Homo sapiens: one gene and its partners. The protein of the gene in region 3 purifies or fractionates together with the protein of the main gene of each other region. This does not show direct contact. Each region holds a gene or a part of one and is shown on either strand. Other genes may lie near its edges.

What was found.
Region 1: the proteins of CACNG1 (region 3) and TMEM222 purify together in Homo sapiens (affinity purification with mass spectrometry; one large-scale study listed by BioGRID and IntAct). This does not show direct contact.
Region 2: the proteins of CACNG1 (region 3) and ALG5 purify together in Homo sapiens (affinity purification with mass spectrometry; one large-scale study listed by BioGRID and IntAct). This does not show direct contact.
Region 4: the proteins of CACNG1 (region 3) and LMBR1 purify together in Homo sapiens (affinity purification with mass spectrometry; one large-scale study listed by BioGRID and IntAct). This does not show direct contact.

What each region holds. Positions count from the first base shown.
Region 1 is NC_000001.11:27,334,532-27,336,900, reverse strand, and holds the end of TMEM222 (transmembrane protein 222), read right to left. Parts: intron 2,235-2,369; exon of another isoform or gene 2,147-2,234; intron 1,523-2,146; coding exon 1,435-1,522; 3' UTR 501-1,434; downstream 1-500.
Region 2 is NC_000013.11:36,982,341-36,985,840, reverse strand, and holds part of ALG5 (dolichyl-phosphate beta-glucosyltransferase), read left to right. Parts: intron 1-100; coding exon 101-214; intron 215-3,500. UniProt on the Homo sapiens protein: Dolichyl-phosphate beta-glucosyltransferase that operates in the biosynthetic pathway of dolichol-linked oligosaccharides, the glycan precursors employed in protein asparagine (N)-glycosylation.
Region 3 is NC_000017.11:67,054,554-67,057,297, reverse strand, and holds the end of CACNG1 (voltage-dependent calcium channel gamma-1 subunit), read right to left. Parts: intron 2,196-2,744; coding exon 2,058-2,195; intron 1,254-2,057; coding exon 1,027-1,253; 3' UTR 501-1,026; downstream 1-500. UniProt on the Homo sapiens protein: Regulatory subunit of the voltage-gated calcium channel that gives rise to L-type calcium currents in skeletal muscle. Regulates channel inactivation kinetics.
Region 4 is NC_000007.14:156,757,184-156,760,683, forward strand, and holds part of LMBR1 (limb region 1 protein homolog), read right to left. Parts: intron 1-3,500. UniProt on the Homo sapiens protein: Putative membrane receptor.

The DNA of each region.
Region 1 (2,369 bases), on a different chromosome or scaffold from region 3:
GGAAAGGCTTCAGGGAGGAAGCGGCTTTTAAGCTGGGCCTTGGTTAGGCAGGGCCGCCATGAGAGGGATGGTGGAGAGCAAAGGATCGGAGGCAAGCGAAGGCTGGATGGATACAGTGACCAGAGGCTGGCAGTGCTCTTGGCTCATCCCCAACTCTGTACCCCGGCGGGTGGTGGGGACAGCAGTGGAGGCTCTACTCAGCCCTAACCCCAAGCCTACAAGTCCTTCCCAACAGGGACGATGGAAGGGGTTTCAATGCCCACCTGCCTCAAGAGGAAAGCTTTGGAATGGGGAATGGAGAATGGCAGGGAATCCCCAGACTTCAGGGGCGGGATATACCTGAGGGATGCTGATGGCCCCAGGCACTGGACGCAGACTCAACCATGGTGCTGGCAACTAGACCCTTGTCAAGGGTAATAGGGTCCCAAGAATACCAAGACGCTATGAGCTAAGGGGCAAGGGGGCCCCAGAGAGGGAGAAAACAATGACAGGGCACCAACTGGAGTCAAAACTCTTTATTGTCCTGCCCAGGGAGCCCTTCCCAAAGGAATCCACAGAGCAGGGGGGCGAGGCGGGCGGCACAGGGCCTTGGTGACAACGTGAAGGGGGAGCTGGAGTTAGGTGGGGGACAGCCCCTTCAGCTCCCTGATGGCACTGGCTGTGCTGGCAGGCCACCCAGGGGAGCCATCACCAGCATGAGGTCCACACCTGGGGCTGGGGCTGAGTGCTGTCTACACTGCTCTGTCTACACGGTTACTCTGGCACTTGTCAGGTCCACTCACCTCTCTGGCCTCAAACTGCAGGGGGAGATGGGTCCAATGCTGGGAGGCACTGGGAGGCCGTGGAACAGTGAAGAGCGGACTGCACGGGCTGGAGGATGCCAGATGGGCACACATGTCCCCCAGGGCAGCTGCCGGCAGGAGTCTGACAAAGGGACCCAGCCAGCCCCTCTGGACCATTCTAGAGGCCAGTGGTGAAGGTCCTGAAGCAACTTGGCTTATAGAGACACGTTAAGTGTACCCGGTGCACCCCATGCTGGGACCAGCTCTGGTCCCAGGGCCACCTTGACAGGTGAGCCCAAATGTCCTCCTCTCCCCATACTGGGCACTGGGCTGAGGCAGGACCCCAGCAGGTGGTGGCGGGAGCAGCTCTACAGCGGGAAGCCAAAGCCTTTCAACAGAAGAACAAAGGGGCTTCCAGGGCCGGAGTCACAGGCCTGGGGAGGAGGGGACAGGGTGCTTCTGAGAGGCAGGGAGACAACAAACCCCCACTTCATGCTGGTCCTCAGTCCTTCCATCCTGCCAGCCCCGACCCCCGGTCCACAACAGCAGGCCCAACCCTGCCTTTTGGGGTGAGGAGAAAAAAATCTGGAACCAAAAGGGATGGCGGCTGTTTCCTCGGGACCCTGGTGGGTGTGGGGCCACCGAGCAGCCATCACCGGAGGTTAAAGACCAGGCTGACGGTGAGGATGATGCCCAGGAGAAGGATGAAGGGCAGCCAGGTCTTCACGAAGGCCCCAACGCTGACAGAGAGAAAGGAGCGAGCATAGGTGGGCAGGGCCTGGTGAGCAGGCATGCGGCCCGCAGCCCTGAGCACCCACAGACCCCAATAGGGCTGCCATCCCTAAGGAAAACCCAACCACCCCCTCACCCCAAACTTGGCCAATCAAGGAAGCAGGCTGGGCATGGTTGCCCACTATGGGGGATCACCAGCTATGGTCCCGGGCAGGGGCTGCTCCGCGCTCCTGGTGATTTACTGACACCTCGCTGGTTGGGAACAGGAAACATGCTCCCCATTTCTAGGCCTCACTGGCTCCATCTATAGCCACCTACCTCTAGGGTCTCCAGCAAGAGGACCAGGAATTGCAGTTTGGGTATGGAAGCCACGTGTGCCCTCTGCCTATGGACTTCATAATGGGGACTACTGGGAGCTCTGGGGCTGGCAAGGGTCAGCAGTGTTGTGGCTGGAGCCAAGCAGCTGGGAGCCAGGGGTCTGGGTTCAACCTCTGTGTGACCAGTTATTCTCAGGGGACTTCTAAAAGCCATGCAGTACTTAAAAATATCCCTAAAAGTCTTCTTTTCAGAACCTCTTAATGATGAACGTGGCTAAGAGGAAAGCTTGGAGAGGCGGCCAGATCAGCACTAACCTATGCTGGCTCACGAGTCTGGGCTCTGCTGTGTCCATGCTGTGGCGACCATGGGCGACTCACTCAATCTCTCTGCCTAGGAAGGGACCTGTGGGGCAGTCATTATGAGAGGATCTATCTGCTCACTTTACCGGAGCACAGGGATCCGTAGAAGCCTCCCTGAGGAGCCGGAATCATTGCCTGCATTTCACCAGAGACAGCTGTGGCTAAGAGAGACCAAGGC
Region 2 (3,500 bases), on a different chromosome or scaffold from region 3:
TCTTTCACTCTTAGGTATTTTAAGTAGAACAGACTGAAGTGTCATTGAATTTAACCTGAGTTTTAACCAATTTTCTTTGACTTGAAATTTTAAAATACAGGGTATATTCAGTTCTCGAGGAGAAAAGATCCTTATGGCAGATGCTGATGGAGCCACAAAGTTTCCAGATGTTGAGAAATTAGAAAAGGGGCTAAATGATCTACAGCCTTGGCCTGTGAGTATAAGAATGTAGTTTAAATAACATTCAGTCAAGAATGCAGGAGAGCTAAAGTAAAGTTAAAGGAGAGTTTACCTATCAGTTTAAAAACTGAGTGTTTTTGGTATGAAATCCTTATACAAATGGTACAGCCCCATAGAGGAACTGATCATTTTGTTACAAATATTGTCTGATTTTATGAGATTCACTTGACAATTACTTATTTAATATTGTGACCATTTCTCTCTCTTGGTTTCTGATTGCTTCTACCCAAGTTTTAATATTTATTGTGCATATTCAATTAAGACTTTTATTTAAAAGTATAGCCTGAATTCCAGGTAAAGATGTGAAATGAAGCTGGATCACAGAATCCAGTTTTTGATGAAACAAACAAAATCACAAGCAGCAATCACTCAAAAAGGATTATTTGAAACTTCACACCATAACTTCAAAAAGTGGAGGTTGAGGAAAGAAATAAAATCCTAGTACCATTCCTACCTTTTAAAAGCCATTTAGAGAAATAAGATGAATTTGGCAAACGCTCAGGATCCTGAGCGTTTGCCAAATACTTCCCAATCTGGAAAAAATGAATAAGAGAATGAAAAAGCACCCTTGGACAACATCAAACAATATACCTACCATCACACAATATGTCAAACAATATACCTACCACCACACAATACGTCAGAATTTCAGCAGAAGCAAGAAAACTTGCTGAGGTCTGCCATTTTTCAGGACTGTAAGCTGAATTGGGGACACAGATCCATGTGACTAGATCCTTTCCTGGATGGAGTGTACCTTGTTCAAGACACTCGACAAAATCTCACAAGACCAGGGAACCCAAGTAACCAACAAAGCCACGTAGAGCTCCAGGGGAGGGTCCCTCCTCCCTGCCTTCCCACCGTCTACCCTCAAGTCCAGATATAATACTCAGGCCTTGAAATTCTAGTTTAGAGGGGGAAGAGATACAGGTACATCAAGGAGAATGTTCATTTACTGTAGGAGAGCTGCCCATGTTAATCATGACAAAATAAAAGAAAGAAATGGCAATCACACCAACATATAATTACACAAAAAAGAATTAAAGTTGCATACAAAAGATTTAAGACAGTGTAATCCAAGGAAAAGGACAAAATTACATGCAAGTATTCTGGCTAAAGAAATAAAACAATGAAAATAAGAATTTAGCAACACAGGTCTTCAAAGGTAAGATGACAAAACAACAAAATGGTATTAAAAGAAAAATTACAGGCCAGGTTTACATGCCTGTAATTCCAGCACTGTGGGAGGCCAGGGCAGGAAGATCACTTGAGGCCAGGAGTTTGAGCCCAGCCTGGGCAACATAACAAGACCCCATCTCTGTAAAAATAAGAGAAAAATTAACAGGGTGTGGTGGTGTATGCGTCTAGTCCCAGCTACTTAGGAGGCTGAGGCAGGAGGATCATTTGAGCCCAGCAGTTTGAGGTTATAGTGAGCTGTGATTGCCCCACCGCACTCCAGCCTCAGTGACAAAGCAAGAGCCTGTCTCAAAAAAAAAAAAAAAATTACAGAACTAAGGAAACAAATTGAGACCAAAATAAGATGAATATGTAAAACTATCTATGAATGAAATAGACCTAGTTTAGAACTGAATATTATTACATATTTATTAAGATCCTGTTATAGCAAAAACCAAACCAAACAACACAAAAAGGTAAACATATAAGGCCCCCCCAAATTTAATAATAATTACAGAAAAACTCACTGCATATCCTTCTAGAAATAAATATTTATTTAATTCCACACTTTGTGAAGTATATTTCTCCCCCACCATCATCCATCCCCATCCCTTGTATTTCTAGCTGTTTTTTTTGTTTTTTTCTAGGTGTTTTTTGTTTTTTTAAGATTCTAAGTGAATCAACTAATATAATTCTTAAGAGAATTAGCTGTAAAGATATTCATACCATTGCTCTTCAGACAAGTAGCACTAGCTGCATGTGTCTATTTAAATTTAAATAAAATGAAAATTTAGTTCCTCAGTTTCATTGGCCACATTTAAATTACTTGTTGCTAAAAGCTACCTTTTTTTTTTTTAAAGGAGATAAGGTCTTACTGTGTTGCCCAGGCTGGACTCAAACTCCATCCTCCTGCCTCAGCTTCCTGAATAGCTGGGACTACAGAAGTGAGCCACCATGCCCCGCTTGTTGTATAGCATTTCCATCATCACAAAAAGTTCTCTGGCTTATAACATGATATGAATTTATTGTTGGATATGTTGTAGTTCACTCTTACTAAAAAAGTATTTCATGTCCAACATCTTAGTAAATCATGATAGGCTAAAAGGAAAATCTCATTCATAAAGTTACTTGGTGTGATTTCCTGATTTTCTCCAGAGGACCCCAAGAGAAACTTGATAAATATTTCCCTTGCATTATCTTTCTAGAGGGAGTCACTCAGTGGGAGGGAGGGCATAAGGCATCAGATTTTTAGCAGCTGATTTTGTCATTCAGCAGTAGGGCAAAGATAATTTAAATGATTTTGCTGATGTTAGGGAGTGAACCAAACAATAAAACAAAAATCTGAACTTTATTCTTATAAATCTAGTTCCTTTATACTACTCTGTAAAGAAAAGGAGTTCTGATGCCATATTTTTTCCTTATCATAATCCCATTTACTACACTGTTACTAGAAATGTTAAGTTTTAAAGAATTAAAGCATGTGATTATCATTAAGCTATTAATTCGTAGCCTTGGTTTTACAGCACCTTAAAGTATCCCTAATTATTTAAGTGTCCCAGCTCAATTGAATTAATTTGAATTAAATTTAGTAAGTTTTATTAATATGCATCATGTAATACTCTTTGCAGGAGGTGGAAAGGAGGCAAATAAATGATAGGTGGTTAAAGTTACAAAATTCATAGTTTTTGGATCCACCCAGTGAAAAATATGGTTCTGACAAAGCTTATAAACAGCCAGTCATTGCTCTCAGAAAACTTACATTCTGAAGTTGACATGCATAGAGAAATTAGAAGAAATCTTCTTACTTATGTAATTCAGGTGTTAGAGAACTTTTTCTGTAAAGGACCATATAGTAAATATTTCAGCTTTAAAGCCAGTCAGCCTCTGTGGCAGCTGCTCAACGCTCTATTGTAGCATGAAAGTAGACATAGATAAAATACATCCTTTATTTACACAAATAAGCAGCAGATCAGATTTGGGCTACAGGCTATAGTTTGCTGACTCTTAAATCTAATTTAATCATTTATCCAATATTGGAAAGTTTTTACAACTACCTAGTGATCTTTCAGCCTCTACTGCATAGCTCT
Region 3 (2,744 bases):
GGGGTGCAAGGCAAGGATCCCATCTGCCGATCATGTCTGAACTCCACTTTGGAAGCCTGGGCAAGTACTGCGGGGTTTTGGAAGGCAGAAGAGTGCAAATCATGGCTCTCCATGTGGCCCTAAGTGTCTAACTGCTAAGCCCTGCTTCCTGATGTTCTTCACAAGAAAAATCCAACATCAGAAATCAGACACTGGCTGGCTGCTTTAGCGCTGTGTTGGCACCAGGTGCGTTGCATGCCAGGCTCTAGAAATAACCCCTCCTATTTTTAACACCCTTGCTTCATCAGAGGGTTTCTAGTTTCTCCCGAAAACAATCTCAGGGCCTAGAGATACGAGTTGGAATTCAGAGCCTCTAAGCCACGTGCGTTGCCCTCTTGTCCCCACAAAAGACCTCAACATACCCGGGTGACCGGCCTTTCCTTCTCATTCGGCGTCAGGGGAGCCCCTGATGTGACTGGGAATCCGAGCGATTTCTATGCAAGGCTCCAGGAAAGCATGAGTTTTCTGAGAGCTTTTTATTTCAAGCCACAGTCAGATTCTACCCAGTTAAAAATGCTTCCCAGGGCTCCTGGAAGCCAAGGAGGGGACGCTGGGCTCACCAGAGAGGGTGTGTTTTATCACCGAGAAAGAGACAGGCTGGCTATTTACACGGAACACCCAGCTGGCAAACACAGGTTGTCCCTGCAATGTTCATAAAGGACAACTGGAGGCAGCTTATCAGAGGCTGGTACAGTGGGGACACCTCTGAGCTCCAGGGGAAGTTGGGCCCCTGCAAACACCTGTCCACCTGCTGGCTCTGCCTCCCCCAACTGTGGCCAGGTTAGGACTCACGTCTTGCTCTATTCCCAGGGGAGCCTGCGGCAGCCCAGAGGAACTCAGAGAGAGGAAGCAGCCTGCGACTGTTGCAGGGGGGCAGATGGGAGCAGGGTGGGGCTAAAATTGCTCCCGCCTCCTCTCTGGAAGGTTCCAGGCCAAGACCCCGCTTCCTGGGGAAGAAGCCTGAGGGTCGCTAGGGCCGCAGGAGGGTTAGTGCTCGGGCTCAGCATCCATGCAGGACTCCCATGGGTTCCGGGGCATTCGAGGCAGGGAGAACAGCAGGAGGGCGAGACCGCCGAGAAAGAGGAGGATGAAGGCGGCACAGGCGCAGGCAAAGGACCAGGAGTAATAGTACTCGATCCAGACGGTGTCCTCACTGTCAATCATGCGCTTCACCGACTGCCGCATGACCTCCACCGAGACGAGGATGCAGAGACCTGGGGGCAGAGCCAGGCATGCTCAGGGACCGAGGGGCGTCTGCCGTAGCCACCAGCCCCATCCCAGCCTGTGTGCATGGAGGAGGCGGTGACCTTGCCTTGGGGGAAAAGCTGCCTCAAGGCAGGTTCTAGATGGGAACCTGCAGAAGGATCCATTTGTCCACCCACCACCCTATTCCTGCATCCCTCAGAAGGGCAACCATGTGGCCAGGTGTGGTGGCTCACACCTGTAATCCCAGCACTTTGGGAGGCTGAGGCAGGAGGATCGCTTGAGGCCAGGAGTTTGAGACCAGCCTGGCAACATAGTGATGAGCCCTCCGTCTCTACAAAAAATTAAAATACAATGAAAAATTAGCCAGGTGTGGTGGTGCACGTCTGTAGTCCCAGCTACTAGGAGGCTGGGGCGGGAGGAACCCTTGAACCCAGGAGTTCGAGGCTGCAGTGAGCTGTGATTGTGCCACTGCACTCCAGCCTGGATGACAGAGCGAGACCCTCTTCCTCATCCCCCAAGAAAAAGAAAGAAAGGTGACCACGTTTCTTTCCTTCTTTTGTTAATCATTCTCTGGGCAGTTTCTTTGGGGCCTTGAGGGTTGAGTCGTGGAGAGGAATGGACAAACCGCCAAGCTCTGTCTCCCTCCAACCCACCTGGAGTCGCTGATGGCCTGGCCAGGTTTGCCCCTGGATGGGGATGGAGCCTGGGAAATGCCCCTCACCCAAATCTCGCGGTGGGCATGAGGGTGGAGCGGAGAATCCCCCGCGACATGGTCCCCCGGCCCCGGCGCTCAGGCAGATCCCCCAGTCTACCTGCAAAGGCATAGAACATGGACGCGGGTCGCAGCAGATAGTCCCTCTTCTTCCCGAGGGACAGGAGGACACAGAGGCTGCCCAGGATGATGAAGCCAAGGCTGAAGATGGCGATGGCGGCTGCCGAGATGCTGTACTCTGCAAACACAAGGGACACCCAGCATGCGGCCTCAGCATGGGAGCTCTTGTCATGGCTCGTTAGGGACCACACCATGCACCACAGTGTGTGTGTCAGTGTCTGTGTGTGTCATTGTGTGTGTGTCAAGTGTGTGTCTCTGTGTCTGTCTTGTGTGTGTCATTGTATGTGTGTATCTGTGTGTGTGTCAGTGTCTGTGTGTGTCATTGTGTGTCATGCATATGTGTCAGTGTGTGTCTCTGTGTCTGTCATTGTACGTGTGTGTCAGTGTGTGTCTCTGTGTCTGTGTCATTGTACGTGTGTGTCAGTGTGTGTCTGTGTGTGTCACTGTGTGTCATTTTGTGTGTCATCATGCATGTGTATCAGTGTGTGTCTGTGTCACTGTGTGTCATTTTGTGTGTCATCATGCGTGTGTGTCAGTGTCTCTGTGCGTCTGTGTCTTGTGTGTGTCGTGTGTGTGTATCTGTGTTGTGTGTGTCTGTGTGTGTCAGTGTGTGTCTGTGTGTCTGCCCACTCACCCTGTGTGCAGCTGTCTGGGCGCAGGCAGGCAC
Region 4 (3,500 bases), on a different chromosome or scaffold from region 3:
CCAAGCCAATATTTTAGAGATAGAAGGAACAGACACCCAGTCCAACATTTGTTTTCTCATTTACATTTACCTACATAATGTCTAAAACAAGAAATCCATAAACTACATCAGTAACATGCAACACTTTCCATTTATATCATCTTTATGTACTAAAAACACTCCATGAATATTAAAGATTGGTATTATCAAAATCATCCAATAGACCAAAATCTAGAGAAGTGGTATGTTTACATACAAACCAAGTCAAACAACAGTAGTTCAAAAGAAAAAACCATACTAATAATTTACCAATTGTATGGGATATTGTCTGCACTGTTAAAAATCCTAAAATTGATTTAATTCTAGTTTTGTTAACATAGCTATCCTTCTGAGAGGATCCTTATTATCTTCGTAGCTGTAGGGCAAATCTCAAAGAAGTCTAGAGCTGATATCAGTGTTCCATATCCTCACATCCAAACTACTCACACTCAGCAAAAAAAATAAATTGTGAGGAGCTAATGGACAAAAAGACAGAAACCATATATACATCTCCTTTCAGACTTTAAAGTATTTTCAGAAAACAGATTTTCAAATCATGCAATCCCTGTCAGATGTCCAATTTATACAGCTGATGTGAAATTTATTTGAAGCAATCCAATAATTCCCAGCCTTTCAACAAATCTTTACGGTCCCCTATGACCTAGCACTGAACTCATCACTGGCACACATACCAACTCGATCCTTGAGAAGCCTGACTTGGAAGGTGAGAAAAAACAAATACTAAAATAATAATCAACAGTAATAAACAAATAAATATACAAACAAATAATGACAAAGAATGACCATCCTATGAGGAAGAAAGGAATAGGAAGAAAAGGGGAAGAGATACCTAAATGGCCAGCCAGCAAGCCCTCTCCAAAGAGGGAACATTTAGGCTGAAATGAGTGGCAAGTGCTGGAATGTGAGCTACTCCCGAGGAGAAAGAGTGGTACACGGAGAGGATCTCCTGGATGCAGTGGGTTAGGGGAGAGGAATCCCAGAGAAAACCCACATGTCTGGGACCAGGTCCTTGGGGGCCTTGATCCAAAGTTCCTTTCCCATCAACACTTCTTTTCACTTTCTACTATCTGGATCAGAATTGACAGTTTTTACATAAGGTCTAAGGCATACAAAAGGATTTTTATCTTTCTTATGCAAATTGTCCAAGAATTACTTATCACCACGGGTATGTCTTAGTGTGAATGAGTGACTGATGTAGTTTGGATATTTGTCCCTTCAGAACCTCATGTTGAAATCTGATCCCCAGTATTGGAGGTGGGACCCTGTAGGAAGTATTTGGGTCATGGGGGTGGATCTCTCATGAATAACCGATTTGGTGCTGTCCACACAGTAATAACTGAGTTCTTGCTCTATTTGTTCACATGACAGCAGGTTGTTTAAAAGAGTATGGACCTCTCTCTCGCCTGCTCCCTCTCTTGCCCTGTGACACAAATGCTCCTCGTTTGCCTCTCGCCATGACTGGAAACTTCCTGAAGCACTAGCCAGAGGCAGGTCCCAGTGCCATGCTTCTTGTACAGCCTGCAGAACCATAAGCCAAATAAACCTCTCTTCTTTATAAATTACTCAGCCTCAGGTTTATACCAATGCATAATAGACTAATGCAGTGACAATGTAAATAACACACATATATTTGTGTTAAGTTCTTATGAGCACCATCCTCCTTGATTTCTACAACAATCCTACGAAAAACAGACTGTTCTCATCTCCATTTTATATTCCAAGAAGCAGGGTTACCAAAGAAATGTTACGTGCCTTCAAACCCTATACTCAACTACTATGGGCTAATGGGGGCTTAAATATGGGTAAGACATAGTCCTTGACCTCAAACAGCTGATATTCTAGTGTAGCAGAAGAGAGCAGATGAATTTAAAAAATAATTAGAAGATTTGTTAAAGTCATAACCGTGGCTTAAATAAAACATTACAAAAGTTCAAAGGAAGAAAAATTATTCCCAGATGGGGAGACAAAAGTTTCGACCAGTGTTTTTGATGGTAGTAGCATAGTAGCATCTTATCTGACAGCTTAAATTACCAAAAGAAAGGCATTTCAATTAGAGGAAACTGTAAGCAGAACACAGAAGTGGAGGGGTAAAGTCCACTCAGCAAACAAATCGGTTTTACAGCTCTGGAGCTTACAGCAAAATAGAATGGCAGACCAGCTTCTGGTATGAAACCAGCCTCTTGGGTTCACACTCTGCCCCCTCATAGATCTCTGATCTTGTACAAGCTACTTAATCTTCCTGAAATGACATTAGTTTAGCCATAAAATAAGAATACTACTATCTAACTTATAGGTTTGTCATCAGGATAAAATGAAATTATGTGTGTAAAATATAGTGTTTATTGCTAGCATATATAATACACTCAATTACTCAATAAATAATCTTTATTACTGAATGTTACCAACAAGAAAAGAAACAAAGACAAGACTTTGAGGATACTGTTAATGTTAGAAATGCAAAATGCTCGTTCCCTGGTGCTGCAAAGAAATAGCACTCGAACATAAATTTAATTTTCTCAGCAAGGCAATTTTTACTTCTATAGAAGGGTGCGACTGGCAAATGGAGTAATGGAGAGAGCACACCTGCACAGGGGAGGGGAAGGAGTTCTTATTTCTGACACAGGGCCCTACTAGTGTGTCGTTCCCCTATTGACAATGGTTGGACCACACAGTCTAAGCTAATTCCGACTGGCTATTTTAAAGGGAGCAGGCATATGAGCCAGAGTGGCAGGGTGACTAGTCTAGCAGGAAGGACAGTTAGGAACAGGTAACTAAAGATGACTTAGGTCAAAGCAGGTGACCAGGGGTGACTCAGGTCAAAGAAGGTGACCAGGGGTGAGTCAGGATGGAGCAGGTGACCAGCGAACAGATGTGAAATACTGATTAGGACTGGTGGGAAAGTTGTTTACTGAAACCAGAGGCAAGGGGGAGAAGAGAACCAGGAAGTTAAACTTTAAAATGGAGAATCGAAGAAGAAGAGAGCTGAACACACTGACATACTGATTCTTTGAGGAAAAACTTGGGGTTCACTATATTTAACATTAATAAGAGACAAGTTAAGGAGAAAAATTAGCTTGGGGAAGGGAGCTAAGTAAGTAGTTTCGTTTTATATACGTTGAGTTTTCAGCTCCATGGGGTATTCAATTATAGCACTTAAAATGTACTGGAATTTGTTTCCATTGTCTTTTCCTCATTAGAATTAGGCATTTAAAAGTGATGTGGAAATGGCAGAGATGGTTTAGGAGCAGAGCATTAATAGAAATTTAGACCAATGATGGAACTTTAAACATTTGCCTATAGTTAGGGGTCAGGAAGCAGAAAAGGAGAAAGAAGACCAAACAAACAAACAAACAACAACAAATGTAGGAAGAAACTAAATGAATTCAATGTCCCAAAACCTCTTTACAAGGGAAAGGAATTTCAAGACTTGGCAGCATGTGTGTGGTACACAAGTGTGTATA